Regions from separate parts of the Homo sapiens genome. Here regions 1, 2, 3, 5, 6 and 7 are each linked to region 4. Evidence: fine-mapped expression QTL. Tissue or cell type: whole blood. Region 4 holds a variant in brackets; each other region holds the start of a gene. Each region is shown on its reference strand, or each on the opposite one.

What was found. PIP is the estimated chance that this variant, and not a neighbour inherited with it, causes the effect. A credible set is the group of variants that fine-mapping cannot tell apart.
Region 1: CIC starts here. The variant in region 4 is the best candidate, but not a certain one, in a credible set for the expression of CIC in whole blood (TOPMed, PIP 0.74).
Region 2: it holds the start of VSIG4, and the variant in region 4 is the best candidate, but not a certain one, in a credible set for the expression of VSIG4 in whole blood (TOPMed, PIP 0.84).
Region 3: it holds the start of AKT1, and the variant in region 4 is fine-mapped to the expression of AKT1 in whole blood (TOPMed, PIP 0.98).
Region 5: it holds the start of EXOC3L1, and the variant in region 4 is the best candidate, but not a certain one, in a credible set for the expression of EXOC3L1 in whole blood (TOPMed, PIP 0.90).
Region 6: it holds the start of SYN2, and the variant in region 4 is the best candidate, but not a certain one, in a credible set for the expression of SYN2 in whole blood (TOPMed, PIP 0.87).
Region 7: PPTC7 starts here. The variant in region 4 is the best candidate, but not a certain one, in a credible set for the expression of PPTC7 in whole blood (TOPMed, PIP 0.89).

Annotation. Positions count from the first base shown.
Region 1 is chr19:42,267,292-42,271,768 of GRCh38, forward strand. It overlaps CIC (capicua transcriptional repressor), which reads left to right and starts at 1,961. Exons shown (of 21, transcript NM_001386298.1): 1 at 1,961-2,090. RefSeq lists enhancers at 951-1,460, 3,620-3,669.
Region 2 is chrX:66,037,613-66,042,089 of GRCh38, forward strand. VSIG4 (V-set and immunoglobulin domain containing 4) reads right to left here and starts at 2,468. Exons shown (of 8, transcript NM_007268.3): 1 at 2,332-2,468. The coding sequence starts at 2,386.
Region 3 is chr14:104,793,826-104,797,825 of GRCh38, forward strand. It overlaps AKT1 (AKT serine/threonine kinase 1), which reads right to left and starts at 1,923. Exons shown (of 15, transcript NM_001382430.1): 1 at 1,659-1,923. RefSeq lists enhancers at 1-388, 389-1,030, 3,072-3,844, 3,845-4,000 and silencers at 1,295-1,614, 1,645-1,694, 1,875-2,234.
Region 4 is chr7:50,340,319-50,344,318 of GRCh38, forward strand. The region is part of intron 3 of IKZF1 (IKAROS family zinc finger 1); the gene reads left to right. Among named protein-coding and RNA genes, the nearest start is that of IKZF1, 38 kb to the left of the region's middle. The variant A/G (reference allele first, on the strand shown) is at 2,297.
Region 5 is chr16:67,187,562-67,192,038 of GRCh38, forward strand. EXOC3L1 (exocyst complex component 3 like 1) reads right to left here and starts at 2,575. Exons shown (of 14, transcript NM_178516.4): 1 at 2,410-2,575; 2 at 2,070-2,122; 3 at 1,459-1,619; 4 at 1,160-1,379; 5 at 1-276. The coding sequence starts at 2,115. RefSeq lists enhancers at 4,317-4,477, 4,416-4,477.
Region 6 is chr3:12,002,247-12,006,723 of GRCh38, forward strand. It overlaps SYN2 (synapsin II), which reads left to right and starts at 2,142. Exons shown (of 13, transcript NM_133625.6): 1 at 2,142-2,682. The coding sequence starts at 2,306. RefSeq lists an enhancer at 2,841-3,341.
Region 7 is chr12:110,581,025-110,585,501 of GRCh38, forward strand. It overlaps PPTC7 (protein phosphatase targeting COQ7), which reads right to left and starts at 2,294. Exons shown (of 6, transcript NM_139283.2): 1 at 1,785-2,294. The coding sequence starts at 2,007. RefSeq lists silencers at 1,927-2,076, 2,117-2,446.

The DNA.
Region 1 (4,477 bases), not on the chromosome of region 4:
GTGTGTACTAAAAATACAAAAATTAGCCGGGTGTGGTGGTGTGTGCCTGTAATCCCAGCTACTCAGGAGGCTTAGACAGGAGAAACACTTGAACCCAGGAGGCGGAGGTTGCAGTGAGCCGAGGTTGCGACATTGCACTCCAGTCTGGGCGACAGAGCAAGACTCTGTTTCGGGGAAAAAAATAATAATAATAATAACAACAGTGTAGGTTATAAGATTCCTTCCGAGTGTGAACTCCTCGTGGACAGTGAATTTCCCCCAATCTCAACACAAATAATTTGTGAACAGTGGGACTTTCTCATAGATGTGAATATCCTTCATATTCCATGAACCCCATTGGACAACTAATATTTCTTCTATGCTATGAACTAGCTCTATGCCCTAGCACATTCTTTCACACGTAGTTTGAGTGTTTCATGGACAGTATGACTTGCAATAGACTGGATGCAGTTTCCTCACAAGTGGTGTGAATTCCAGTGTGGAATCTGAACCTGTCACAGGCAAAAGAAAGCCTCCCTGCGGCCAGCGTACCCATATTGCTTCCCATTAGCCTCGGACCAGGGCGAATACAAAGTGGAGGGCATAGATGCATTGCAGACAGGTTCACCATCTGGTTGTAAACCCGTATCTGGGCAGCAGGCATCTACTACAAACAGGGCATCTCCCTGTCCTCCTCCACTCCAGTGTGATACCCTCCTACCCCTGGGATCTTTAAAAATCTGCCTCTGTCAGGGGCGTACACCCACAAAGTGTAGCTCTCCACGTAATGCAGTGCGAAGCCCCAAGAAGCGCTGCATTTCGTCATCTCGGCCCCCTGCCCCAATGCCTAGTGGGCTGTCAAACTGCGCTGTCCTAAATGTCAAACTCTTGGAGGAGGTGACCTGTCCCCCGGGCCCCAGGCCGCGCGCGTTGCCTATACTGCAGCGCGCGACACCCCACAAGCGCGCGTTCTCTCCCCTCCCGGTGGCAACAGGGCTTTCCGCGGGGCCGCGCCAGACTTTTCGAGACCGTCAATTGGTCGTAGTCCCGGCCACCCGGCAGCCAATCAACAAGGGGAAAGGTGACATCACTGGTTCTCCTCCCCTCCCCCAATCCAAACTTCCCTACTCCGTCTACCGGCAGCAACAACCACGTGGGGGAGGGGTAAGAGAGTAGAACCGGTGAGGTCATTGCACCGCCCCGGCCGCTGCTGATTGGCTGCGGGGCTCGCGGGTGGCGGTTGGCTGCTCCTTGCACCTCCCCCTCGTGCCGCTACCGCTGCCACTGAGAGGAGCCACCGGCGACGCCAGAGCCAGGAATACGGGTGAGTCGGGGCCCTGGGTCTAAGATACTCCTGGCGTCCAGTGAGACTCACGACGAACTGCCCTTTTCGACTTTTTCTCCTCGCCGGGTTTCTTTGGTGCTCCAAGCACTCTGTCACATGGGAGTTGTAGTCTGCCTTGTACTGTCGGCTATGGGCCGAAGACGTGAGAAGACTACGGTTCCCAGCAGGAACTGCGACTAGCCGGTCAACAAACGTTCGGGCCACGCCTTCTACCTCCGTTCATTGGACAACCCGTCCCTTAGCCCCTCCTCCTTTCATTTCATTGGCTACTGTCCCTCACAGAGGCTGGGTTCCGGCCTAGGCTGCATGGCGACTGGGTACTGTATTTGTCATTTGGAACTAAGACGGCCTGCAATTGGACACGACTGGTGTCCTTCACTTGTTGTAGGGTAGGGCCCTAGGCAGATCAGGCAGTCGTAGGCTCAGGTTGGTGTCGGTCCCGGAGGGAGGCCGGTCTTGGACTTTGGCCCCGCCCCCTAGCGCTGCCCGATGGGCCCAATTGGTCGCCGCGAGCGTCGCTCGTCGTCGAGAGGCGGAGCCGACCAGTCTGCGGATATCTATTGGTCTAGGCTGGCGCCGGTCAGTGGGGTTGTGATCGCTGATTGGCTGGCTGCTCCAGCTGTTGCAGGTCCATTCACCATTTTGTGTGTTGGAGTAAAAAAAAAAGGGAGAATCGAGAGGGAGAGCCGGAGGGGGGGCGGGGAGGGACCGGACCGGACCGAGCCGGGGCCACGGCCCCCCGCCCCGAAACCCCGCCGAGCCCAAGGTGAGGGGCGGGGCCAGGGCTGACACAGGAAAGGGGGGTCCGGGGGGCTGGGGGCCGAGAGGGGACAGGTGGCAGGGACGGGGAGGGGGTACAGGGGGAAAGGGGTGGGCGGAATGGTGGGAAGGGAGGAGGGAGTGGAGGAAGTGGTGGGGGTTTGACAGAAAAAGGGTAACTGGGGGAGGGGGTGGTGGGCAAAGAAGGGTAACAGGAATGGAGGGGTGACAGGACTAGATCAGGGTGACAGGGAGAGGGAGGGGACAGAGTTGGAGAGTGTGACAAGGAGAGGTGATGGGGAGAGAAGGTGACAGGTCCGGAGATGGCTGACAGGACAGTGACTGGGAGGAATAGGTGACAGAGATAAATGGGGGTGACAAGGAGGGGGTGACAGGAGGGGGCCTAGGGCATTTTAACCGAGAGGTAGAGATAGAGGTAGTGACAGGATGAGAGAGAGAGTGTCAGAGAAGCTGGTGCCAGGAGGGCTAATGGGAACAGAGGGTATGAGACCCCAAAGAGCCAGGGCCTGGGCTGGCCTGGGCTCCGGGAGTTACTACTCAGATCTGAGGAAGGTGAGGGCCCCCGGGGCTTGGGTGGGAGTTATTCAGACAGGGTGGACAGGAAGAGAGTAGGCCCTAGGGGAAAGAAAGCAGCTCTGGGGCGAAGAGAGGCTGGGCCAGGCAGCAAGGTCTAGGGGTCCAGGCGGCATAGTTGTAGGCCCTGGGTGGGGTATGCAAAGGTTTGTGCTTGGAAAAAACTGGAGCCAGATCTCAGTCCCCAACATGGTAGTCTAGTGGGTCAGCGGGTATTAGGTGGTGATGGCTGCCCAACTTCTGGGCATTTGGGTGCCAGCCCCGGGACGCCCTCCAGGCTCTGCCTGTGAGGACCCCAGGATTGGCCCAAGAAAGGGCAGGCCTGGGACTCCAGGGTCCACAGGAGGAGCAGGCCCCTAGTGAGAGAGCATGAGGTCAAGGGTCCCCCAGTAGCTGGAAGACTGAGTCGGGGTTGCCTCTCATTGTGTTTGGCTTATGGTTCTGGGTCCCCCAACCCTCCTAGAGGCCTCTGTTTTGGCCTCTCAGGTTCTCTTAGTCACTTCAGAGTAAAGTTTTTTCCCCTTTTCTTTTCTCAGGGCAGCTCGAAAGGGGGCGGGCAGTAATGACTGTTCAGGAAGTGGGTGAGGTTGGCCTGTTGGGCTTGTCCTGCTTTCTTTGACCTTATCCCACCTATCCCCACTTGGAGTTGGAGGGCATATTTGGGGGCCTGCGGGGGGCTAGCCGACTCAGCCACCCTGCCAGAGCCAGCCCAGCCAGGGCGGGGATGCATGCAGGCAAGAAGAGGGGGGCTGGGCTTGCGGGTATCACGCTGGGTGCTGTGGGGGGAGGAGCAGGCTCCCATCCAGTGGGACAGAGAAACCCTGGGGTGTAGCTCTGTGTCCCACTGTGTGATGACGTGTGCGTGCTTCTGTGCGTGTGTGTGTGTTTGTGCGCGTGCGTGTGCTCATGCACGGCCCCGTGGCAGTGCTGGGTATGAGCTCTTGCCCCAGACATGCCCCTGCCTGCTCCCTGCCAGGATCTGGGGAGATGGCTGTACCTGGCAGCCCTAGGGTGCAGAGCAGAGTGGGCAGCCGTCCCTCGGGACTCTCAGCTGCCCACTTCTTCCCACAGTGCCTGGCCATGCCAGGCTGCCCAGAGGGGCAGAGGGAGGGTGGGGGGGTGGAGAAAGGCTCATATCACAGCCCAGTCACCACCCTTTTTGTGACTTGGTACTTGTGCATGTGTGTGTGTGTCTGAGTGCATGTACTCTCTGCATGGTGACAGTGCGAGTAAATGTGCCCTCTGGATCATGTGACAGGCAGCACACTGAAATGGTCAGGAGCACGGACTCTGGAGCCAGAGAGCCTGGGTTCAGACCCTAGCACTGCTGTTTCCCACCTGGATGATCTTGGACAAGTTGTCTCATCTTTTTGTGGCTCAGTTTCCTCAGGTGTGAAATGAGGCCGATAGTAGCACCTGCTTTTAGGGCTGTTGTGAGGATGAAACAGGTTAATAAAGGCAAGCTTAGCATGGAGTTCAGGACACAGGGAGTGCTCCATAGGTGTGAACTGTTAGTGCTTTTGATGTCCCCTTGGGGCATTCAGAGCATGTGCTCTGTGTCCTTTGCAGAGCCAGCAGGTGTCTGTTCCCCAAGGAGCCAGAGTGTGTATACTCAGGGGACTCAGGTGCTCACCTGTGCCTGGTGCTGACTGAGGTATCACATGAGTTGACAGCAGCCAGAGAGGAGGCCTTGGGGATGGTGGGATGGAGACAGTAGACTCAGCAAGTGGGAAATCTTAGGGTACACTGGCTCTGGAGAGGTTCCTGAGTTGCTCCGCGTAATCCTCCGCTCTCCCACCC
Region 2 (4,477 bases), not on the chromosome of region 4:
GATAATTACTTATATATAATATATAATAATTATATAATTATTACTGATAATTACTTATATATAATATATAACATTATATTATATTATACTTATTACTGATAAGTATATATACTTATTACTAAGTATATAAACTTATTACTGATACGTATATATACTTATTGCTGATAAGTATATATACTTATTGCTGATAAGTATATATACAGTATTGAGCTTAATGTGGTCCTGAGACCCAGCCTTATAAAAGCAAATGTCTGATGCCTGTGTAATGGCACTGAAGAAAAGAAAGGTTGAATTTACTAGGTGTGTGCTCCTTTATAAGACCCATTCTAGGTCTCTTTCTGAATCCCCTTCCTCCCATCATCACAAAGAGGTTGACATTTTCCATATCTCTATCCCATTCCCCCACATGACTGGCTTCTCTCCCTTTCCTGGAATGCCTCCTGGATGGAGGATTAACTTATATAATAGATGTTTATAAAATGTTTCTGAAATGTTTAAAATGTATATAAAATGTGAATATTAGAAATTTTTTAAATTTTGATTATCTTGACATATCTCTTAGCCCCACAGGAAGAGGCTAGCAGCTTACTCTGGCCGCTACAGGGTTTTTAGCAGTGAAGCTGCAGTCCCACAGAGTTGTCCAGCTGAGAAACCCCTTTAAGACCAGTCAAGTCAACCTCCTCACTGTACAGATGGGCTAGGAACAATGAGGTCCAGGGAGAGGGAAGGTATTATTTGCAGCTCAGCATAACCTGAGCCTGAGGTCTATAGTATAAGATCCTGTGTACAAATGGAAGGCCTGCTTCCAGGTCTGGAAAAGCTCATAGGCTGGGGAAGGAACAAGACACATGAGTGCTCTCTCTCTCTCTCACACACACACACACACACACACACATGAATGCACACACACATACACACACACAAACAAAGGATTTAAATTTAACATTTCTAAAATGCTCCCTCAAGCCCCAGGCTTAAGCCCTAGCTCAAACCAACAGACTTGGAGAAGGTAGAGAGATACATTATAAAACCTGCTAGAGAATGGAAATGTGGTAGTTATAGAAAGAAAAATGTTTTTTCAGGAGCATTAACTCTGCCACTAATGCTCTTTGGCTTGGGGGCAAATTATTTTTTCTCTTGGTTGACTTAATTCAGAGTCTTTTCTAACTCTGAGGTTCCAGAGTGTGATGGGTCACAGAGCCCCAGGATAGGGTAACCTAATCAGAGTCAGCTACGGAAAGCTGGATTCTTTCTGACCTAACAAGTGACACCAAGCTAACACCTATCCAGCCTTTTTCTCTAGGGATGATAGGGAAGCAGCAAAATCCCCCTTTACCCTATATTGGATCTCACTTAGCTGTTACCCAGGTTGAGTTTCCTGAAAATCCATCTCACTTCTCAGGAGTGTAGATGAGGATAGAGCTTCCCAAGCTCCAAGGAAATAATGCCACTATGGAATAGTCCATCCTCCTTTGGGATTTGTATCCAGCCCATAAATAGCCCAGACAAATTGAGCCATGTCTATAGGGAAGTGAGTTATCCCAGGAATGGGTAAGAAACCAAGTCCTATGAAGACCAGTTGAAAAAGCTGGGGCTGTTCAGCTTGGAGGAGAGAAGAGTCAAGGAGACATAGTACTTGTCCTCAGGGCTTTGAAGGGCTATCACAGGGCAAGGAAGCATCTATGTTCTGTGTAGCCCCAAGAAGCAAAGCTGGGGTTTTTGGATGGAAGTCAGAGGGAACTGGATTTAGTTCAACACAAATAAGAACTTTCTAACAGTTGGAGCTGCTCCTGGATGGACTAGATGGTCTGGGGAGGTAGTGAACAGTGAAATCTCAATCACTACTGGATGTTTCTGAGCACTTATTCATGACAATGAAGGGTGGTATAGGTTACTTCTATAGTCCTATCCAACTCTTAGAAAACACTCCTTCTTCGGGGGCTGTATATTTTAACAGAGACCAAAGCTTGGAAGCAGAGTGGTTAAGTCCAATTGTAGAATTTTAGATGAGAGACAGCAGATGGAGGAAAGATTCGGATGTCATTGGGAACCTTCTTGATGCCCCTGAGATACAAGCCCTAGAAAATAATGCAGATGTTTTCCAAGAGAAAAATCCTTTTTCAATTTCTGCCCAAACTTGCCTTCTGGCTTCTTCAGCAGCCTTCAACTACATCCATCCGTTTTGCTCAAGGCTGAGAGAGCCTGCAGAGTTTGGCTGAGAAGACTCACCTGCCCAGTAGGAATAGGCTTTCCATAGTAGACATTAAACACCAACCCTCTAGCCTTTTGCCTAAGCCAGCAATGGCAGCCAGGCCCCCCTTTCTGCCTTACCATAAGTGTCCACTGTTAGGTGCCCCAGGAGTAGCAGGCCCAGTAAGATCCCCATCACAGCCAGAGCTACTTCTGTCCTTTCTTCCAGCCTCCTGCTACCAAAGAGGCTCAAACTTCTGGTGGCCGCCAGCGTCTGTGACTGCTTACTTCCCTTCCTTCCCTATATCTCTCACTCAAACTCCTAGTCCCATCACACATTCCCCTTCCTTCCCTATTTCAGTACAGGTCATGTGGGGTGCCCCCCTTCCCCCACCTCCTTGGGGTTGGAGGTTCCAGGATGAGTGAAGCAATTCTTCCCCCTGCTAGGGTATTGACTTGACTTTCCTTGGAGCCAATGGGGCTTTCTGGTCTTTGATCTCCTAGGCTGTATTTATTTTGAGTCTCCTCCACAAGATTCAGAGGTTGTGGGGGCGACCTTTGGGATGAGTCTTCCCACTCCAGTATGGCGGTGTTTTCCTTTGTGGTGAGCCCAGGGAGAAGAGATCAACTTTGCTGACCTACCCAATTTTCATTAGTTGTACTGTTAACCCTTGCCTGTGCAGCCTATGCAACTGGACAGGGTGTTGGGCCCGGGGTGCTTTTGGGCTTAAGAGTACAAGAGTTTAGTGTATTAAAGGGCTTTCTACACATCAAAGCTTGAATAATTGACAAGCCAATGGATAAGGCTGTTATGGGTGAATATGCCTCATATCTCATATTGGGGAAGCTCTTTGAATCACTTTCTACAATGGCTCCACCTCTCTGATGGTAAGGGAGAATTCATTTTCATTAATGTTCTCCATGCTTTTTCATAAGGAATTTATTTTTTACTTCTTTTAAGGGAAATTTAAGCCTAGCCTCCAGTGCAGCAGCCCATTAGTGGTATGCTGTATTAGGTTGAATTTTTCATTGACTTCCAATTGGTACAGGCCCTTGACCTACAAGAGAGTAATATTATGCCTCCTAGCAAAGCTCAACTGCTCCAGAAATTGCTCCTCTTCACAGGCCCCAGAGTGACTGTAATTTCATCAGCAGTCTAACTAGGTTTGGCACTGCGCTTTGTCTACTAAGCTTTGAAACAATAAGCACTTTCAAAAGCACAAATACATCCCAAAAATTCATACTGCACTGTAAGTAACAGCTAAGCTTAGTTTACTCTTTGATTGGAGGGATAGGAAAGGACTTGGTCAGGGGAGGGAGGAGTTTGTGCAGAGATGGGGAGTGGGAATATAAAGAAACATACTTGCCAAGGGGTGGCTGCATGCAGATGATTTGGAGCTGTGCACGGGCTAAGGAGACATTCCAGCATTTCAGGACACATTATTACATGGAATTCTATCAATCACCTCTGCCTCTAGGGCCCAATCCCCCTTGGCTGGTTGTTCCTTGTTTTTTGAGTACTGCACTCATTCCATCTCACTGGAAATTTCAGCCATTTTTTCCCACCGGGTCCTCACTCAGGAAACCCTGAACTTCACAGAACCCTCCTTTGATATTTTTCAACCAACACCCTATCACCACTACACCACCACCACCGCACAGACACACACACACACACACACACACACACGCACACACATACACACACACACACCCCTCCCCTTCCCCGCTAAAAAGCCCACTGGACAGATGTAAATTTCTGCCTGGCCAGGTGATTGTGTGTTTTGTGCTACCTCTTGCATTTTATTAGGACCTCCTGGATCTGAAGATAAATAAATGTCCTGGGGAGTATGCACAACATTACTTCAAGGCTGGGAAAGACTTCCAGTCTTGCAGTAGGCTCAGTAGCCCTCTTGATTAGTAAAAGAATTGGATGAGAAGTCAGAAACCTGGAGATAAGCCTGGCTCTGTGTCTACTTCATTCTGAGATCTTGAACAAGTCAAATCTCTCTGAACCTCAGCTTCCCTAATTGTAACATGAACATAATTATACTTGATGCTTGTATCTTTTCAGATTTATAAAAATCAAACTATACTATACATACAATAACAACTATATAATGATAGTTGCTATTTAAAATCTTTTACTCTTCCAGTCACTGAATTAAGCACCTTGCATGGGTTATTTCCCTTGGTTCTTACAACCCCTCAGGTGGGTATTATTGCACATACTCTTGTATCTCTCCCTACCACTCTATACTCCCTTACACTACTTTTCTTTTTCATT
Region 3 (4,000 bases), not on the chromosome of region 4:
AGCAGTCCTCTGCTACCCTTCCAGATGGGCCTTCCTGAGGGGAGGAGGGTCCTCTCTGGGACCTCCAGGCCAGGCAGAGACCCCTGACGACCTCTGTGGAATGGATCCCAACATGGGTCTTTCCACAGCCAGCTTAGACGCTCTCCCCCCAGGCCACCTTTCTGGCCTCCCGAGGCAAGGGCTGGACACCCACAAAGGGTTGCTTTGCACTGATTGTCTTAAGCTACACTTAGAATGGCAGGAAGGCCCACTGCCTTGTGTCTAATGCCAGGACAGGGAAGACCACACCTTACCCAAAGAGGGAAATGCCCCAAGTACTTAGCAGGATGGAAAGCAGGCCAGACTCGAGGAAGGCACCGCAGGACTCCGAGGGCAGGGCTCCGAGCCGCGCACGCCTCAGGCACAGGGGGCTCTGACGACACTGAGTGGGCGTGGCCTGGAGGCAGAGGGCTGGACTCAAAGACCTCTGGATGTCCCCCCACCCCCACACGGGCCTGAGCCCCTCCAAGGCCTGCTGCTGACAGAGTCAGACAGCTGTCCAGAGCCATGTGTAAAAATACATCTGTGCTCACACAGGGTGGTGTACGTCTGCACAGAAACGTATACACCAGGCCAGCACAGGGCTGCCTGTGGGGGCGGAGGGACCCCGACTTCCCACAGCCTCCGTACCTGCCGCCTGCCTTTACCATAAGCACATATTCTTGCTACTATTATTAAGTCACAACTTAAAAAAAAATACTCTGTTTTCGAAAGGGCTCCTCCATCTGCCTCCAGAACCCTGGTGTATGAGAAGTCTACACAGCTCCCGGGAGAGGCAACCGGACCCCCACCAACGGACTCCGTCCGCCCTTCGCTCGGATGAGGGACTCAAAGCAGTCAAGAAGTGGCCACCTGGAGCAAGGCCGAGAGACCCAGGAGTGAATGTGGGGCGGCCTCTGGCTGCAGAGCAGGGGCCCAAGCTCACCCGCTGACCAAGGCAGCACTCAGAGGCCGTCCCGACAGGACCAAGCTCGCTAGCGCCCCAGGATACTCAATCTAAGGGGCAAGCCCCAGCTGCCCTCCAAGCCTTGGCCTCTGGGATGGGCGGGCAGGACCTCCAGGGCCCACCCAAGACAGGAAGCAGTTCCGGGGCCCAGGAGGGTCACAGTCCTTTGTGGCTAGCCTGGGTACCCCGCCACCACGTACAACTTTTCGTCCGTGGGAAACGAAGTCTCCTTCCGGGGCCCTCCCACAAACTTGAAGGCCGGCCGCGGCGAGTCTTTCTCCAACCCCGGGGCACCTCCGCCGGCTGCCTCGCTGGCCCAGCGCCCGGGGAGCCCCACGGCCCGCAGGGGCACCCCGAGCCCCAGCTCCAGGCCCGGCGGCGTCCCTTCTCTCGGGTCCCGGCCTCGCCCGGCGGAGCGGCCTCCCCAAGGTCATGAGGGAGGCTGGGGCCGGCAGCCTGCACCCCCGGCGCCCGGCGTGGGGCCGCCCTCCCTTGGCCGGGCCCGCGCGCCCCGCGCCCTCCCCGCCCAGGCCCGCTCGGCCACTTCCTGCTCCCGCTCCTCCATTCTGGCGGCGCCGCGGCTCGCGCCCCGGCCCGACCGGCCGCGAACAAAGCGGCCCGGCCCGCGGGGAGGAAATCCAGGCCCGGGCGGCCACGGCGGGCGGGGACTCACCGGGCCGCCGCGTCCGGGCGCGAGCGCGGGCCTAGCCGGGCCGCGGCCTCCGGCGCCCGCCGCTCCGCATCCCCGCGGGCCGGCGCTGGGCGGGGCCGGGCTGGAGGCCGCGGCGGGCGGGGGCGCTGCTCGGGGCCGGGCCTCGCGTGCCGCCGCCGCTCGGTGCCCGGTGCCCAGCGCTCGGTGCTCGGCCGCCTGCTCCCGTCTTCGGGCCGCGCTGCGTGCGCTGGGCCAGCCGCCTGCCGCGCTCGGTCCTGCCGCCGCCGCCGGCCCGCCCTCTCCCCGCCCCGCGCCCGCCCCGCGCCCGGAGCCGCCCGCCCACATCCGCCTCCGCCGCCCGGGGCGTCCCCACCGCGCGGCCGGCGGCGAGGGCGGAGCGCGCTCGGGGAGCGCGCGGCCGGGCTGAGGGGCAGCTCCCGACGACCTGGGGCCTGGGCTGGGCCGCTAACGGAGCCCGGCCACCAGCCAGCCCGTCCCGGGGCCACGCCCTCTCTGGCCTCAGTTTCCCCGTCTGTAAAGTGACCCGGCGCTTCTGGGCTCGCTCTGCCGTGACCCTAGCAGAAGGGGCCCGAGACAGGTCAGGGACGAATCCCGGACTTCTGCCTCCGCGCGCGGGGCGGGGGTGGCTTAGGTTGACTTTCAGGCTGCCCCACTCTGGGGGGCGTGGAGGGGGCGGCCAAGAGTGACCTAAAAGGCCCAATCCCAAGACCTTGTGCCTCTGGGGGAAGTGCGGGAGGATGCCAGGACAGGAGGTCAGTTGGAGGTGGGCCTCCAAGGAGCAGGAAGGCTCCGAGGGGAGTCAACCATTCACCTAGGTACTGGCAGCTACACTCACAAAAGGGGGACTTTGCTGGGGAGTGGGAGAAGAGGGGCACACCTTGCCTGGCTCCCACCTTGAGCTGGGAGCAGACACCAGACAGAGGAGGAGCGGTGTCTAGGGTGGGCTGTGACAGCTGACAGCCCAGAGCCCTCCCTGCTGGGTGGACTTGGTCAGCCCGGACACCCAGTCCGAAGTCCACTGGGAGGCAGATGGCCCGGGTATGGAATGAGTAAGTGGGACACAGACCCCTTTCTCCTGGACACTCACAGGAGAGTGCAGGTGACTGCCACCCCGACCCCTTCCTAGCCAGAAGTTCCTCCGACAACTGCCCCTCCCCCATTCCAGAGGCCCACAGTTGATAATAACCCTTTTGTGAAAGACAGACTCTTGTGAGTTACCTTCCTGAGGCTGCTAAGTATTGGGGTTGGGGGAGCATTTTTATTTTCAGCCAGAGTGAGTTCAGCTGGCAGCAGGGGAGGGGGTGGGAGGAGATGCAGACAGAGGCAGCAGGTTCGGCCCAGTGCTCAGGACAGAGTCTGCAGCCAAAACTCGGGCTTCATCCCTGCCTCTTGGGGCTGACCAAGAGAAGGACTCTCTCCCCCTGCATGAGGGCACTCGCTCCTCAGACAGGGGACTCCCCATTCCTGCCTCTCGCCTGAGCACCTCTGCTCCCTCCCAGCTCAGACTTTGTAACCCCAGGAAGGGCCCACCTCCAGGGGGCCAAGTCAGAGGCCCAGTGGTCTGCGCCGCTTGGGTGGGATACCTGACACAAGGGTTGCCCCCAGAGCCTGGGCGTCTGGTGTCTGTCTCTCACCCAGCAAACCTGCACCATGAGCCACCTGGGGCTCCCTCTGGGACTGTCCCACCTGCCCACTGCTCCCCGAGGAAGAGTTCCTGGTATCTGTCCACCATCCTGGGCTCTGCCATGCAAGGATGGAGGAAGGAATTCAGGGAGGAAGCAGAGGGTAAGAGGGCCATGAGACAAGGCCAGCAAGTGGCCGAGGCTTGGGGATGTGGGAGGGAGCAGGGCACCCTCTCATGGAAGAGGCAGTGACATTGCGGGCTGTTCTTGAAGTGGTTGGACCTCTTGCTTATTTTGCACTGGCTGTCTCCAAGGAGGCCTCCCAGTCTTCCCAGCCTGGTGCCCTGGCATCTGCTGGTGCCTGCAACCCACTGTGGGCCCCACACTCCAGTCCTGTCTTCACCTTGGCATGAACTGCCCTCCCCCAAGACGGGGATCTCCCAGTGGGCAGGGCCATCTCCCTCTCCTCCAGCGTCCCAGAGGGAAAGCAGAGTCCTCTCTTCAAGAACACCCCCTCCCACCCCAGACAGAATGGTCAGGAGAGAACCCAGCCCCACGGCTGCTGCTGGGACTGCTGAGGTGCTCTGTGGCCAGATGTTTCCGACAAAAACTGCTGCACCAGGGAAGGGCCCGACGGCTGCCTCCTCCCAGAGCTCAGGGGCCTCCTGCCCTGTCACCTTCTGCAGCTGCTGGCCGGGGGCAGGACTCGAGGGCCCTGGG
Region 4 (4,000 bases):
CCAGGAGAGTACTTCCCCCACAGGGGATGTGGCTGCAGGCTGTCGATTTCCACTGAAATCACCAGGAGATGATTCTGGTGAAGCCCTGAACATCCGGTGTCACTCCTCACCAGGCTGGGTGTGATCGATGGAAGGCCTTCAGCATGGCCCCCTGCTGCATGGCAGAGCCCAGTGGCAGATGTGGCTGTTCTCTTTTTCAGAGTGAAGGACTGTTACCCTAGAAGTGAAATCCTGCTGAAATGAGAAAAGTGCTGTTATTATATTTCTACAGGCAGCTATATGATCATTTTTATTATGATTCTTGGAACCTGGCAGAATTTTGACTGCTTTTGCAATATCTCTGTGCTCTCCAGTTGAACTTGGTGGCAATAAAATTAAGAATCTGCCAGTGCCCCCCAAGCATTTCTACTCTGTCCATAATGTTTAGTGACAATTAACTATTACCAGGTGTAGCCACCCTTACTTAATCTTAGTGTTATGGTGCAAGTAATCCTTAGTGAAATTATTGTTCTGTAGAGAATGCTGTGATCTAAGTGAAGTGACTTTCATCCTGAGATGACAATGGAGTTGTTTTTGTCACTGTAAAGGCTGCATTTACTCGCAGTTTTAAAGCATTATTGCTACTTATATATGGTCTCAACACTGATTTTTATATTTGACTTTGTAGCTTTAAGTGTAAAAATTTCTGTTAAGGTTTTATATGTGTTAGTTAATTTTTCCCATTTCAATAACCATGTTTTATTATTGATGGAGTCTCCTAAAAATATACCCTTAAAATCTGCTTGCCCTGTGCCTGCACACATATTTTAAATGTTGGGTATGGAGTCTTTTTTTTTTTTTTTTTAGACAGAGTTTCACTCTGCAGCCCAGGCTGGAGTGCAGTGGTGTGATCTTGGCTCACTGCAGCCTCCACCTCTTGGGTTCAAGTGATTCTCCTGTCCCAGCCTCCCAAGCAGCTGGGATTACACGCCCGCCACCATGCCCAGCTGATTTTTTGCATTTTTAATAGAGATGGGGTTTCACCACGTTGACCAGGCTGGTCTCGAACTCCTGACTTCAGGTAATCCACCTGCCTCAGCCTCCCAAAGTGCTGGGATTACAGATGTGAGGCACCGTATCCAGGCTGTATGGAGTCTTTCTAATCAGGACATAGGCAGACAGTCCTAGCCCAGCTTTATGCCTTATGAGACGCAACAACGTTGAACAGTCATTGTTTGAGGGACAGAGGTTTTACAGATGGATGATAACTAGCATCTGTGGAACATTATTTGTGAAATATAGAAATCAGAAATTCCAGCGTAGCACTGTCCAAGGGGAACATAATTTGACCTGCATATTTGCTGGTCCATTTTTAGTAGTCACATTAAAAAAGAAAAATGACACAGGTGAAATTAATTTGAATATATTTTCTTAATTCAGTATGCTTAAATATTATTTAAGTATGTACTCAATATAAGCAATTGTTAATGAAATATTTTACTCTTTTTGAACTATGTGTTTGAAACCCCGGATGTATTTTTTTTTTATCTTCACCACACATTTCAATTTGGGTTGGTCACATTTCAAGTGCTCAGGAGTCACATGCAGCTAGGGGTTACCTATTGGACAGGCAGGCAGATCTTGAGAGCTCCAAAGAACTGTGTGTCATTATATTGTGGAAAAAAAAAAAACTTTTTAGATTAACCCTTGTTGAATGTTAGCCAAAGACTAGTCATTTATCAACTCTCTAAAAGTAGTTTTTAAATCAATTTGCTTTTCAAAACATTTTCTCAGTGTTGTCACAAATGTATGTGAACATCTGCTTTTTAAGTCTTTCATTTTTTGCCCACATTTGATGTAAAGAAAATCTAGGTCCAGTCCAATTTTAACATCAATTGGGTTTATTTTATGTAGCTGTGTTTTAAGTACAGGTCTTGTACTTGTAGGCATTTTGGTTAAGTACAAAGTAACGAGAATACAACAACATGTGAACATGTCAAACAAATCAGTTTTTCAAAGCTAAGTAGCTGAATTAAATGTAGAAAAACATGACATTTAATTTTTGTCTTCATCCCTTCATTGTATTCCCATGTACTCTATGGTAACTTTTTTAAGTTGGGAAGTCCTCTTTAAATTTTTGAAATGAGGTAGCTGCTTTATAGACATGAGGCAGGTTCCCAGAGAGCGCCCTTGAGGACAGGCTGTAAGTAAACTAAGCTGCAAAGACAGACACCATCACAACTATGGAATTGTTTTGCAAAAATTGTGGAGAGTGATGCCCCTTGATACTTCCTAAAAGATGCTTTTGCAACCTGAT[A/G]AAGCAACCGAGGAGAGGTGGTGAAGGAAAGGCTTTTTTTTTTTTTTTTCAAAGAGAGAAAGAGAAGCAGCAAGCTGCCTGCCTGCAGCCTGAGAAAGCAGTTCCACCTTGGCACCCATGTCCTCATAGCCCAAGCGGGGCCACCCTGGCATGTGAATCTGCTCCGCAGTGTGCAGCCCAGACCCCAGCCTTCCTGTGAAAGGGACACCTCCTGCTGCTAACCGCTGCTCTTCCTGCAGTTCAGGAGACAGCGTGTGCTCCTGTGGCGGCTGCATTTCCTGAGTACACCATGATCCAAAAAGGCACAGATTCGTCATGGAAGCTTTGATTGGGCCGTTACTGTCTTTTGACCTTTCTTGTTTGCTTGCCCTTTTGTTTCTTTCCTCCTTTTTCCTTCCTTCCTGTCTTTCTTCTTCCTTCCTTCCTTTCTTCCTTTTTCTTTTTAATTTTCCTCCTTTCTCTTTCTCCTTTCTTTCCTTCCTTCTTTCCTCTTTTTTTCTTTCCTCCCTCCCTCCCTTTCTTTCTTCCTTCCTTTCTTTCTTCCCTCCTTCCCTCCCCACCCTCCCTCCCTTCCCCTCGTCTCCCTTCCCCTCGTCTCCCTTCCCCTCCCCTCCCTCCCTCCCTTCCTCCTTTTTCTTTCCCTTTCCTCCTTCCTTCCTTCCTCTCTTCTTTTCTCCATCCCTTTCTTCCTTTTAACATTTGATCATGGGTACCATTTCATCAAGATTCTGTTACTTAGGTCCAAGGACTAGTGACCAAATTGTTTTTCCCAGGAGTAAACTTTTCTACAAGACATAGAGAAATGACTGCCAGTGCCATCAGGCACACCATCCTGTGTGATAGGTAACCTAAAATAATGGTACAGCGGGGAGTAACTGGAAGAGTCACAACTACACAAATCTCTTGCATTTTCCTGATCATTAAATGAATTAGGGATTTCCTGGTTTGAGATTTGTGGACAAGGAGAACTACTTCTTTGTACAAGAGGCTTGTGCCAGGAGAAGACACGCTGTGGTTACAATGTTACTGTCTCTAGCTATGGTCATTTCATGTCTTTAACTGAGTGTACCTAGAGTGTAATACAGTGCAGCAGTGATGGGCTGAAGGCCTAATGCACCAGCACACATGCCTGGAAGACCTAACGTTGAGAATCCGCATTTTTTTCATCACTCACATTTATTTTGCATCTCCCTGTTTTGATTACCTTCAGAGACCCAAGCACTTGCTTTTGTATATTTGAGTCTGGGTTTTATTTTCCTTTTAGAAATAGTCCAAAATCCTTTTAGAGCCTAGACCTTTGAATAAAGTGCTAACTTAACCTGAGGAATGCTGTTTTTTTGTTCACAAATAAGGCTTAATTGTGAAGTCGTGAGAATTGCTTTCTGAGCTGACTTATAAATTTACCCACCTCTTTTTCCCCAAACCCCCAAAAAATCCTCCAGAAGGTGAGCCCAGCTTGTTGTAAAAGATTTTGAAGCAGAAGTCCTGGGTTTAAGCTTCAGTTCTCTGCCTTACCAGAATCGGGATGTGTGGGGCAGGCCTACCTCCTCTTTCTTCATCTGCAAAATACATTGAATGAAATCATATTTTTTCCTAAGTATATGACATGTAAAGTGGTATTTCAAAAACTCATTAATCTGCATGACCAGGTCAGAAAAGACACACCTTTTGCCTTGTGTCTAGTGTGTGACTGTCCTCACATGT
Region 5 (4,477 bases), not on the chromosome of region 4:
TTGTTCGTCCAGTCTCCACCTCCGCCACACGCACAGCAGCCACCAACAGGGCTGGGTCCTCCCGTGCCAGCTTCCCTGCGGCCCCTGCAGCTGCTTCCACAGCCTGGCCCAGTGCCTCGAACAGAAGGTCCAGCCCCTGGAAGACTGGCAACTCCAGGCCCCCCAGGGGTGCCCACGTATCCTCTCGCAGCTGCTCCAGCTCCCGAAGGCTCACATATGCCTCCAAGAACTGTTGGCCATCAATCAGAGTCTGTGTGTGGGACACTGCAGCCGGCACTAATGAGAGTGAAAAGGAGACGGCCCTGGGTCTCAGCCTTCCCACCGCCTCAATGTGTACAGCAGGGGATACTGAGGCCCAGGGCGGGGGTGATGCATAAAATATTTAACAACCAGTAGAGTAAGCTGGGCACAGTGGCTCATGCCTGTAATCCCAGCACTTCGGGAGGCCAACGTGGGTGAATCACTTGAGGTCAGGAGTTTGAGACCAGCCCGGCCAACATGGTGAAATCCCATCTCTACTAAAAATACAAAAATTAGCCAGGCATGGTGGCACATGCCTGTAATCCCAGCTACTGGGGAGGCTGAGGCAGGAGGATTGCTTGAACCTGGGATATGGAGGTTGCAGTGAGCCGAGATCACACCACTGCACTCCAGCCTGGGTGACAGAGTGAGACTCTGTTTCAAAAACAAAACAAAACAAAAAATGAACAAAAAACCATAAATAAATAAATAAATAACCAGTAGAGTACTGGCCAATCTAAGAGGATCTTGGCAATGTCCTAAAGACCTGGTGGGCCAGAGGTCAACCCATGAACTCATGGAATATGAGGAAGCTGAGGATCCTGGAGGGAAGGCAGGGGAAATCGGGGGGTCCTGCCAGTACTCGCTCAGCCACTCTGTTAGGGAAGAGTTTGAATATACTGATAACCAGGTGGCCAGAGTCACATGACTGGGTGTCTGTCCTGACTCAAGCATCCCACACGTGGGAATCCCAGGATGAGCTGCCTCATAGGCCATGGGAAGCCCGGGCTACTGTCTGGGAGGTCCCTGGTGTGCTGCTCTATGCAGTTCCCCATCTAGTGCCCCAGCCCCTTGATTAGGGATGGGTGTTTGTGGACTGACTATTGGAGGCTGAGGCCCAGGGTCCCTGCATGCTCACCTGCCCGCAGCCGAGGCAGCAGGTGAGACAGGGCCTGCAGTTGCTTGTGCTGGGCAACCCGCTCCCGTAGGGGCTCTAGAGTCTGTAAGGCCTGGGACATGCCCTGGAGCAACCCACGGGCCTGGCTCAGGGCCTCCCGGGTTCCCTGCACCACCTCAATGGCCTGGGCCAGCTGCCACACACCAGTCTGCACGCCTTCCAGGTATGACTGCATCACTGACTGTGGAAAGATGGAGCCATGAGGCTGGGCCAGCCCTGCAGCACAGTCCCAGCACCCGCACCCCCTGCCCCATGCCCACCTTGAGGCGCGATTCCAGGGAGCAGGTACGCTGCACCTCGCGGCTGCGGTACTGGCCTAGCCTGGCCAGCTGCTCCGGCCGGTAGAAGATGCCTGAGGCCCACTTGAGCGCTGCACCCCGGGCCAGCTGCTCTGCCCGCTCCTGCTCTGGCCACTCAGGTCCTGGGAAGGAAGAGCCTGGGCAGCCGTGTAGTCAGGGAGGAGGGCCCAACGACCCCAGTCCCAGCTTTCTTATTTATTTATTTATTTATTTATTTGTTTGTTTATTTGTTTATTGAGATGGAGTCTCGCTCTGTTGCCCAGGCTGGAGTGCAGTGGTGCAATCTCGGGTCCCTGTAACCTCCGCCTCCCGGGTTCAAGCGATTCTCCTGCCTCAGTCTCCCGAGGAGCTGGGATTACAGGCGCGTGCCATCACGCCCAGCTAGTTTTTGTATTTTTAGTAGAGACGGGGTTTCACTATGTTGGCCAGGTTGGTTTGGAGCTCCTGACCTCAGGTCATCTGCCCATCTTGACCTCCCAAAGTGTTGGGATTACAGGCGTGAGCCACTGCGCCCAGCCAGTCCCATCTTTGTTGCCATCATTCCTCCCCTAGTCCACCCAAAAGGTTCATACCAGGGGACAACGCCGGCTGCATCTCATCCTTGGCTGCTGAGTCCATTGTGGGCCTGGAGGAGCCAGAGCTGAGGTGGGCCCGGGGCAAGCAGGCAGAGTAGATGCCCCTGTGAGCTGCTGCCTCTGTCTAAGCCCTTCTGAGAGGAGGAAGGAGGTTCTTCCCGGCCCCCTCGGGAAGTGAGAGGGAGCGGGTGTGATGCGGAGGGCACCTGGGAGGCTTTGCCTGCTAGGTTTCCCAGTCGTGCCCCTGCAGATGTCAAGCGAGACAGAGTGGGCACAGGCCTCCACTGGACCCTGGTCCTGCTCTGAGCTGCACAGGACAGTTTGGTACAGAACTTACCAGATTTGATCAGGCGTCCAGTTCTCCCTCCAAAAATGACCTTGGCCTTGAGAACAGCCCTCTCCCCAATGCAGCTGGGCACGCCTGCCACTTGCTCACAGGGCCTGGGCAACTCCAGCTGACTCCAGCGTGCAGCTGAATTCCTCTCCCCAAGGAAGTCTCTCTCCCACTCCCCACCCAGAAGCCCCTTCTTCCCACCGAGGCTCCTCCCTCCCCAAGGCCATCAACAGAAAGGAAGGAAGCTGAGTCTCTGGCATTTTATTCCCAACAGGAAAGAGTGTCTGCACAGAGGGTGGGGACAGCTGGGCGACACTTCCCTGAGGGGCGGGGGGGTGGGGTGTACTTGTACTCAACCAGTCTTGACCAGCCTACCCAGAACCTCTTAGTGCTCAGGAGAGGAGATAGGGATTTGCTAGACTTGGCCTCAACCTGGGGTGGTGGGCAGAGTGTGCAGATATGGATGCAGACGACATCAACAGCACAGGATGAAAACTGTGTTGGCCAGCCTCTGAGGAGGATGTGTACCTCTGCGGAGGAGTGAGAGGTGGCAGGCTCTTGTGAAGAGGGGTGTGGTGGGGGGTGGTAGGAGAGGGTCATGAAAGCTGTGTTTATCTTTTTTGTTTTAGACAGGGTCTTGATCTGTCACCAAGGCTGGAGTACAGTGGCACCACCATAGCTCACTGCAGCCTTCTGGGCTCAAGCGATCTGCCTGCCTCAGCCTCCCAAAGTGTTGGGAGATTACAGGCGTGAGTCACCGCAACTGGGCAGCTGTGTTTATCTTGAGAGTTATAGGGAGCCAGGGAAGGGACTATAAGGTGGTAATTATTTAGTGGATGTTCAGTCCACCACCCAAATCCACCCTTCAGGACAGAAGTGCTCATTCTCCAGCTGCCAGGAGTGTAGGCTACTGAGATCACACCACTGAGTCTCTCAGTCAATATTGGGGTGCAAAAGCATGGTACCATCGTGTGAACATGAACCCTTCAGAAGTGCTACCCCAATTTCAGAGATCCTAGTGGGATAGGCTGAGGCCTATAATATAATTGCATCTGCTCAATTCTGCTTGTCTTAATCCCTTAAAGGTGTGGATCCTGACCAGGTGCGGTGGCTCACACCGGTCATCCCAGCATTCTGGGAGGCTGAGGTGGGAGGATCTCTTGAGCCCACGAGTTCAAGACTAGCCTGGGCAATATAGTGAGACCCACATCTCTAAAAAACTAAAAATAAATGAGCCGGGCATGGTGGTGCATGCCTGTGGTCCCAGCTACTTGGGAGGCTGAGGTGGGAGAATCGCTTGGGCCCAGGAAGCTGAGACGGCATTGATCTTGCCACTGCACTCCGGCCTGGGCAACAGAGTGAGACCCTGTCTCAAAAAAAAAAAGTGTGGATCCCCAACAAACTTGCTGCAAAACCCTATCTCGAGTCCCATTTCCCAGAGGACCTGATCTAAAAGAAACAATAATAAATAGTAACAATGTTAAAAGTTACAAAATGACCGTATCACACATTCCTGCATGCCAGGAATGACTGAGTGCTTTACTGATATTTACACATAGGTAAACACGTTTGCATTGGCTGAAGTGTTCATAACCCCATAGTCTCTGAGCACTGTACTGTGAGGACAAGACGAGCGAAAGATGAGGCTAGGACCATGGGTGGAACAAGGTGGACAAGGTAGATATAGTTAGTGCTTGCTGTTTGGCAGGAAGTGAGGGATAGGAATAGATGGGGTGACCCCAAGACAGTAGGGCAGCCTTTAGGAACAGGTTTGATGTGGCAGTAAAATGAGTTTGAAATATATAAAAGAATAAATAAAGAGAAAAAAATGGAAAAGGAACAGGTTTGAGGGAGCAGATTGGATTAGTCAGGTAGTGTGGTCTCCTCTCCCAAGATGGGGACTAGGCAGAGTTAGTGATGTTGGGGCAGATTGGCAAGGAAAGTTCCGATGGCGTCCCCTTCTCTACTGCCAGGGCGGCCCACTGACGCCCTTCTCATTCCTCCCCAACTTCATCCCAACTCCCCGGTCTACCCAGGTAGTTTTCGTCTTATTCGGAGGCTGGACATTTGC
Region 6 (4,477 bases), not on the chromosome of region 4:
TTTATTTAATTATGTTATTAGTGACTTATCAGTTTTATTCTCCAATAAACACAAAAACCGAGTTGGGTAAGATTACAGTTCAATTCTCAAACAACTGAGTCCTTATTACATGCCAGGTCCTGTGTTTGGTGTGAAGCCCAAAGATAACTAAGACATAATCCTGTCCTAGAAAAGCTTACATTCTAGTCACCAGAATATTGTATGATAGTTTCTTTGGGGTCTATGACAAAGCCAAGCACAGGATATGGAACACTTAGCCCGCCCTGGAGGATTGACGAAAGGCTTCCTGGAGGAACCATCAACTTACATACCTTCTCCATGCCTTCTCTGGCTGCCTGCCTGCCTGCCTTCTTCACTTTTCTACTGGTAAACATAGCTGCCTCAAGATCCACCTCAAATGTCACCTCCTCTGAGAGGCCTTCCTAAGTCTCAGAGGCAGAATGAGTCCCTCCCTCCTTAGGCCTCCTAACCCTCTTTGCCCAACTGTATGATAGCATTTCTCACATCTTATGTGGTTCCTGTGTCTATCCTCCCTCCATCCCCCAGCCCACATAGATCATGAACTTGCAATAGACAAGAGCCACTTCCCATTCATTTCAGCCTTTCCAGCTCTTACCACTGTGCCAAGCATGTAGTAGATAGGAAGACCACTGTGTTATTATAGTTGACTGGAGACTTCTCTGATAGCACCGGCTCAGAGCTGGATTGTGTATCTCTAGGCCCTGAGTTGAGTGCCAGCTGGGATACAGGAAGCAAGAACTGCCCACCAACATTAGTGACAAGCCACTCCCTGACTCCATTCAGCCCAGTACATACTTACTGAGAACCAATTGAAAAAAGAATTCAGGCATCACTACTGGAATACCTACTGCTGTGTACCAGATGCTTTACATACATGATCTCATTTACTCCATGTAACAACTCTGGAAAGGGTTACTTATTCCTTTTTATCAGCTAAGGAGAGAGGCTCACAGGGGTTATTGATCCAGGGTCACATATCACCCGGGGTAGTCTGCTGTAAAGCCTATCTGCTGTGTCCTGCTCCATTACAACACAAGGGAAAGTATATCTAATGAGAGATGAAAACTAAAGGTCCAAGAGTCACGCAAGATTTAGAGAGTGCACATGGGAAGGTGGCCATCAGAAATGTCTTCACAGAGGTCAAGGCAACGAATAAAATGGAAAAAACAAGTAGAAAGATCTTGAAGAGATGTCCTTCTTGGTATAGCACTGGATGCATCAATGCATGCTAGGAAAGAAACACGGTGGGGTTGGGGGATCCTTAGATATCCCTCTTGGGGTGGAGACCATGTCTCCAGTCTTCTCTTGGTTTTCTCTCACTGGTCAGTGAGGAGGGGGAGAGAAGTACATACTGTTGTTGTCCCTAGAAGTGCAGGAGTGAAAACACACCCCACCCCTCCTTCCATGACAGAGTAGAGAGGATCTGTTTCTCCCCTTTCCTCTCCCTCGCCTTGGAGTAAGGAGGCTGCCTTCCTCCCTAGAAGAGGTATTTCTTTTTTGTCTCACCATAGGGTGTGTGTGTGTGTGTGTGTGTGTGTGTGTGTGTGTGTGCGCGCGCGCGCGCGCGTGTGTGTGTGTGTGTGTTAGTAACAGCGGATTATTCCCTTCCCCCTCTTCTGGGGGCTGGGGAGATGACATCTTTCTCCCCAGCGTTGGGAAAGGAGGTGGTTCTTTTCCTCCTCACTACAGGGTGTTCGTGCTTGTGTGCGTGTGTGCGCGCGTGATTGGGATGACTCCTTTCGTTCTCACCTCCGCATAGGGAGGCTGACACCTCTTATCCTTCCAAAAGGAGTGGGGTCGGTTTCCTTCGCCTCCATTTCAGCTGGGACACGGCTCTTTTTCTCTCCAACCAAAAAGATGGTGGGGCCTCTGGTTCCTTTTCCTTCCCCTGGGGAGAAGGCCTGGCTCCCACGCCCTCCCCGCATAGTCACGCTCAGGTTGCTGGAGGCCTGGGTCGCCCCCTCCTGCAAGCCCCGAGAGTCGCCAGACGCGCGGCTAGGTGCCCTCCGTGAGCGGGGCGGGGCCGCCTCTGCGGCGCGGGGCGGGGGCTATCTCTGGCCCCGCCCCTGCCCCGCCCGCTCCCTCTCCGCGAGCCTCGCGCCGCGCGGGTTGCCTGGCCCAGACCGCCGCTGCTGTCTGCGGGGTCTGGTGCCGGGGCCTGAGTCTCTGCTGGCTAAGCCGCCGCCTCAGCCGCCTCAGTCGCCTCAATCTCGCCTTCCGCCCTCGCTCTCCCTCCGCGCCACCAGACCCCGTAGCCCCGCGCGCCCCCAGCCCTTTAAGCCAGATGATGAACTTCCTGCGGCGCCGGCTGTCGGACAGCAGCTTCATCGCCAACCTGCCCAACGGCTACATGACCGACCTGCAGCGGCCCGAGCCCCAGCAGCCGCCGCCGCCGCCGCCCCCCGGTCCGGGCGCCGCCTCGGCCTCGGCGGCGCCCCCGACCGCCTCGCCGGGCCCGGAGCGGAGGCCGCCGCCCGCCTCGGCGCCCGCGCCGCAGCCCGCGCCGACGCCGTCGGTGGGCAGCAGCTTCTTCAGCTCGCTGTCCCAAGCCGTGAAGCAGACGGCCGCCTCGGCTGGCCTGGTGGACGCGCCCGCTCCCGCGCCCGCAGCCGCCAGGAAGGCCAAGGTGCTGCTGGTGGTCGACGAGCCGCACGCCGACTGGTAGGTGCCGGGCGCCGCCGCCCTCGGGGGTCGGGGTCCGCCGGCAGCCGCAGGCCAGGAGAGGACGGTCCCAGGTCGCCGAGGAAACGTTTCAGACCAATAAAAAGGAGGGTCCCCGAGGTCCCGCTGGGAGGAGGTGCGGGCTGAGCGCGCGCGCGTTTGCGGGGTGAGGGAGGGCATCCATCAGCCCGGAAAGGCGAACCCAAAGCTAAAATACCCCTCAATTGCCCCAGGTCCCCCAGGTCCCATACAAGAAGGAGCTACTTTATGCAACAGGAAAGGCCCTTAGGAAATAGTTTTTTTGGGGGTAGAGGAGGGGACACACTTGTTAGCTTAGACACATAAAATCTGAAGTGAAATAGTCCCAGGAGGCCGAAGGAACATTTAGGGCCAGTAAAAAAGGTTTAACTTCATGAAGCACGGAGTGAATTTGGAATGGAAATTGGTATTTTGGAGGGAGAAGGTGGTGGTGGGTTTTTTTTAACCAGGACCCATGAAGGCTGATATCAAGTATTGACATCAGGTTGATGAAATCACACATGTAGTGGCCCAGGTGTACACGGGCTTGTTCCCCGGAGCATGGCTGAAGTCTCTTTATGAATAATAAAATTGTTGTATTTTGTGCAGCAGGGAGGGGACGTGTGGAATTTTTTTTTTTTTTTTTTGATTGCTTGTTTTTCTGAAATGTGCGTGGTGGGGGGCGGGGCGTGGAAGTGAATGGTAGCTTTTTCTAGCTGAAAGATGAAGACCTTGGTAAAATATACTGGATCATTAAAGGGGTACAAATAAAAGGAGACCTGCCTTAATGTAGTAGATGGGAAACTTCAATAATTTTTTTTTTCTTCTAAAGAGATAGGTAGCATGTTTCCAACTTAGAATGGTGAAGGCTGCTGCTTGGTAAAAGTACGAATGAGGTCCACTGAAGACAAATTAGTTAAAAGCGGCTCTATTTTATAGTTAACCTAGGGAATGGTGGGATGGTGAAATTGATAGGTGAAGGGCTTGGAGAAATGAAGAGGCCGAGAATCTGGGGGTGCCTTTTCTCCAGGAATGTGAGCAAGGGTTTTGTTTTTTTTTTTTTCTCATAGGGGTTGAGGTTGGAGACTGGACCTGAGTGTTCTTCCCAGGAGGGGTGCACAGAGAGACCACAGAGCTATTTCTCTCCATTTCCTCTTTTGGCTGCTTCACTGCTTTCTCTCTCTAGCATTCTCTCTTTGGGAGACCCAGAGGGAGGGAGTGCTGGCGTGTGGGTGTGGTGGAAATGAGATGCAGATGTGGAGATGCCCTCCTGCTGGCTGCTAATGTCACCATTCTGAATAGTCCTTTGGGTGACTTATGTGGTTGGCCTTTTCAAGAGAGTAGAGTAGAAAATCCGAAAGGACTTTTGCCAGGAAATGACAAAGGCACATGGAAGAGGGTAATGGGGAAAGTGTAATGCATATGATAGTGCCACTGGCAGCCCTCCTTAGAATTACTCTGACTCAGTTCATATCAACAAGTGCTTATTACGGAGGAAGGGAAGGTAACCAAGCTAGTAAAGGTGCTCAGTCAGAGCATCCATTATATGCCAAATGCTGTACTCTCAGCATGATATCTCATTGCATTTTCTTCACAAAACTGAGGCTTAGGAAAGGTAAGTAATATGTTTACAATCATGTAGCCAGCAAGTGGTAGAAGCAGGATTTGAACTTAGGCCTGTTTGACTCCACTGCTTTCATTCCACTGTGTTATATTGCCTCACTATTATTATTAGCAATATTAATAACAAGCTCCCTCTAGGCAGTGTGGGGGCCTT
Region 7 (4,477 bases), not on the chromosome of region 4:
TAGGAGTGAGCCACCACGCGCAGCCCAGCATACAGATTTATGAGGTGAACCTTAGAGGCTCATTATCCCCTATCCTATGTTATGAACACAACTTTAAGAAGCAACACAGGGGCCAGGCTCACACTTGTAATCCCAGCACCTTGGGCGGCCGAGGCGAACACGAGGCCGATCACGAGGTCAGGAGTTCGAGACCGGCCTGGCCAACACAGTGAAACCCCATCTCTACTAAAAATACAAAAATTAGCTGGACATGGTGATGGGCGCCTATAATCCCAGCTACTCGGGAGGCTGAAGCAGGAGAATCGCTTGAACCGGGGAGGCGGAGGCTGCAGTGAGCCAAGATTGCGCCACTGCACTCCAGCCTGAGTGACAGAGGTAGACTCCGTCTGAAAAAAAAAAACGCAGCACAGGTCACAAGCTCATTGAGTGAGGCACTTCTAAATGTATCAGGGAAGACAGCCACTGACAGCTGACTTCGGGGTGGATTTGTACAATTTCAATCTGCAAGCTGCAGGACCTTTCTAAGTCTCCCTCTCATGTTAATATCAATAGCGTTGCCTAAACATTAAATGCTTTTTCTTCAACCCAGGTAATGGGGTCATTCATAAATTAAACTGAGAACAACCTTTCCAGTCCCATGTTCACAAACACTACATGTAGTAGAACCAAAGATACTAGGCAATTATTCTGAGATCAGATTAAAAAATAATTACTGTCATAAAAAAGTTACAGAATCATTTGTTCCAATGCCAAACTCTGCCTCAGCATATGAAATTTAAAGTAACCAAAAACTTAGTCTCACCTGGGAAGGGAAATCAAAGTGACATTTGAACCCAAGTTCAATGACAACACGTCCTTCAATTTCAAAGCGAGCGCATTGCTTTATTCATTCAAAGAGTTTTAACGGCACAATATCCCATAGCATACACAAAATCTCCTAAGGCGTACATTATGGTAAAGTTTCTGACTGCTTGTGAACTATATTTAGCCCTTTCTGCCAGCTCTCTCCGTAGTCTCCCACCCCCAAAAGGTATAACTGGAATAGGCCTCAGGGAGCACCTGTGGCCTGAAAAGGCTGTGACCAATCCTCAGAGCTTTACCGGCTGCAATCTACAAGTAGGCTCGACCATTCTATTTTGGATCAAGGAGACTCTGCCAACCCCCAAGTGACCGCAAGTGGACAAGATCAATTTGGGAGAAAACGCTGTGAGGGTTTTTTCGCCAAGCCAGCAGCCCCCACCGCCACACTCCGAAAAGGGTGAAGATTTGGTTACCATCCAGGCGGCGAAAGAATACGGCCGGGCTGTCTGGGGGCTCACGACTGCCTGTCGGCCGGCGATCCCGCAGCCTGGGCCGGGCTGTGGTGTCGGGAGCACGCGAAGAGGCAGGGATCCCCGGGGCATGCGGAGAGGGAACCAGAACGAGGTTAGGAGCCTGCAGGTGTCGCCCAGGGAGGGGACGAGGTCGCCCAGGGCTGGCACGGCCGAGTGAGACCGAGAGTGTGGCTCTGGACTCGGACAGACCGGTCACACTCTCGGGTTGTGACCTTGAGCACACGACTTGACCGCTGTGCGCCTTAGTTTCCTCCTCTCTAAAATGGGGGTCGTTCAAGCGGAAAACGCGCCTCGGAGCGCTTGGCACGGCGCCTGGCGCATAGTAAGCGCTCCCTCCATGTGAGCGCTCTGGCTCCTTTCGCCGCCGGGAGGAACTGGGGAAGCCCCGCGCGGGGAGTCCCCGGGAGGCGGATCCGAGGCTGGGGCAAGGGAACCGGGTCGGGGACTCACCGAGCACGTCCGCGGAACGGTGCCGGGCCACGAAGCACGCGTCGTCCCCGTAGCACGCGCCCTTCTTGAGGAGGCCCTTACGGAAGTCCTTCCCGAAGCCGCAGCCGGCCGTCACCAGTCCGTAGTCGCCGCCGCCGCCGCCGCCGGCCCTGGGGTCGGTCTGCGAGAGGCCGCCGAGCACGGCGCGGGCCACCAGCCGCCCGTACGAGAGGACCGAGAACATCGCCGCCGCCGCCCCCCCGAGGAGGCGGGGGGCCGGGGGAGCAGGAGGACGCGGAGGCCCGGAGCCGGCTCTCTCCTCAGCCGCAGTCGCGCCGCCGCTGGGGCGCTCCTCAGGGCGGCGCGCAGTGGCCGCCGCCGCCCCTGCCCGACGCGCGGGGCCTCGCACGCGCTCAGCCGCGCGCACCGGAGCCAGAGCGAGGTCAGAAGCGGCGGCTCCTCCGCCTCAGCCCAACTGAAGTCCCGGCTGCAGCGGCCGCCGCCGCCGCCGCCATCTTCCGCTCCACTAGCGTGTTCCGGGCGGTGCCGGCAGCACCGCCCCCTCCCTGGCCCTGCCCCTAGCCCCGCCCCGATTCACCGCTCAGGCCCAAGCCCAGCCCCTTGGGCTCGCTGCCTTATGCAGTCACCAAGGTTGAACATGCGCAGAGGGTGCGGACGCAGTGTCTCTTGGGAATTATAGTCCCGGAGTCGTAGTCACTTTTGACTTGGCTGCCAAAGATTTAGGACCTAGGGGGATTCCTCAGACGCGGGACCTATGTTAAGTTAGTAGGAATTGCAGGTGGGCCACGTGAGGGTTTTCTACCCTGTTTTAACCGTATCTTTTAAAGCCTGTTTTAAATAAATAACGCCACCATTCCTTTAAACAAAAACCTGCAAGAAACCAGAATGGAGTCACATAATGAGAAACAGAGGTACACAGATCTAGTGACACCTCCCCAAGTAATATACTGGAAGGATTTAGGGCGGCAAACTGTTTGGAAAGAAGAGACTTTTTGTAGTCTTTTAGGAAAAATTGAGAAAATGTTATGTGTCCCTATCAGAGTGGGAGGGGACACAGATGGTGTCATGTCCCTTTTGCTAACTGGCCTCTAGCCATGCTCACAGCTGTCTCAAGACCTTTGCCCTTGCTTTCGCTTCTACCCTTTGGAATGTAATTCGTTTACCTGAGGGTCCTGTGTTTTCTGTTGCTGTATCCCCAGAACACGTGAGCACCCAGTAAATATGTGAATGAATGAAAGAATGAATGAATATTTCACTAGATTCTAAGTTTCCCAAGGACAAGGATCATTTGCTGCTCAATTATTAGAATCTAAAGCAATGCCTGGCACACAGTAGGAGAGTGTGTAAATGTCTGTGGAATAAAAGAAGGAATAATGGGCTGGGCGTGGTGGCTCACACCTGTAATCCCAGCACTTTGGAAGGCCGAGGTGGGCAGATCACTTGAGGTCAGGAGTTCAACACCAGCCTGGCCAACATGGTCTCTACTGAAAATACAAAAAAAAATTAGCTGGGCTTGGTGACAAACGATTGTAATGCCAGCTACTCAGGAGGCTGAGACAGGAGAATCGCTTGAACCTGGGAGGCAGAGGTTGCAGTGAGCCGAGACAGCGCCACTGCATTCCAGCCTGGGAGACAGAGCTGGACTCCATCTCAAAAAAAAAAAAAGGAAGGAGTAATGGAATAAGAACACAAATGATAAAAGAAAGTCATGTTTGTTGAATACAGGAATGATTGAGTGAATGGGGTTCACAAACAACAGAAAATGAGCTTTGGGGCAAGTAATTCAATTTAGAGTAATTTTTAGTTTGATTGAAACATATATTTCTCAGAAACAGCAGTCTTTTTCTAGTTCACTTTTAACAAGACCATTGTTACTTTGGGGATTCCCACCTCGTTTTTAAATGGTCCTTTTTTATGCTTTCTTAATATATTTAAAATGCTGCCAACTATCAACTCAACACATATTATTCCGTTATCCTAATTACTGTCATCATTAAACACTTTTGCAGTTCACAGTGTGCCAAGTACTGTCTATATATATGTTTCTGTCTTTAAGAGCTTTCATCAAAATTGGACGGAAGAAATGACTTCACGTAGTGGCATTTTGTCAAATATACAGAACCCAGAAAATGTTCATTTACTGGATAAATGGTATAGTAATGACAATAATGCATTCACACCTTCCTTTTTTTTAATGGCACAAGAATTGGAGAGTGCCCAGAAGAGGGGGTAGTGCCTCTCGGAATCCTCTACTTGGCATTTATATTGCTGCCAGCTGTGCTAAAGGTAGCTCTTTCAAGTACACATACCACTACCAGATCCCAGTCAGTCTGGCAGGTAATTCTACCCCAAGGACAAACTTTTTAAAATAGCATGTCAACCCTATTTCTTGCCTCGTCAAACTCCTTCAGACTGCTCCTACTTTTCCTTTTCAGGGCATATATTACCTAATTTCCATGTCAGTCACAAGAACTGGTTTGATGGGATGAGTAGGAACCTAAAATGTGACTCTAAAGCCAGTAACTTCTGCTCCGATGGGGCTGCTGTTTTCATGATTAAGTGATACCAGTGCCTTGAGTTTCCGGCAAATGAATTTCCTGCAAGTGAGTTTCCTGCAAATGAGTTGCCCACAGAAGCACGTGGCGAACAGAATCCTTCTCAAAGCTCCTTTGCAAGTTTTAAAGGAACAGGAG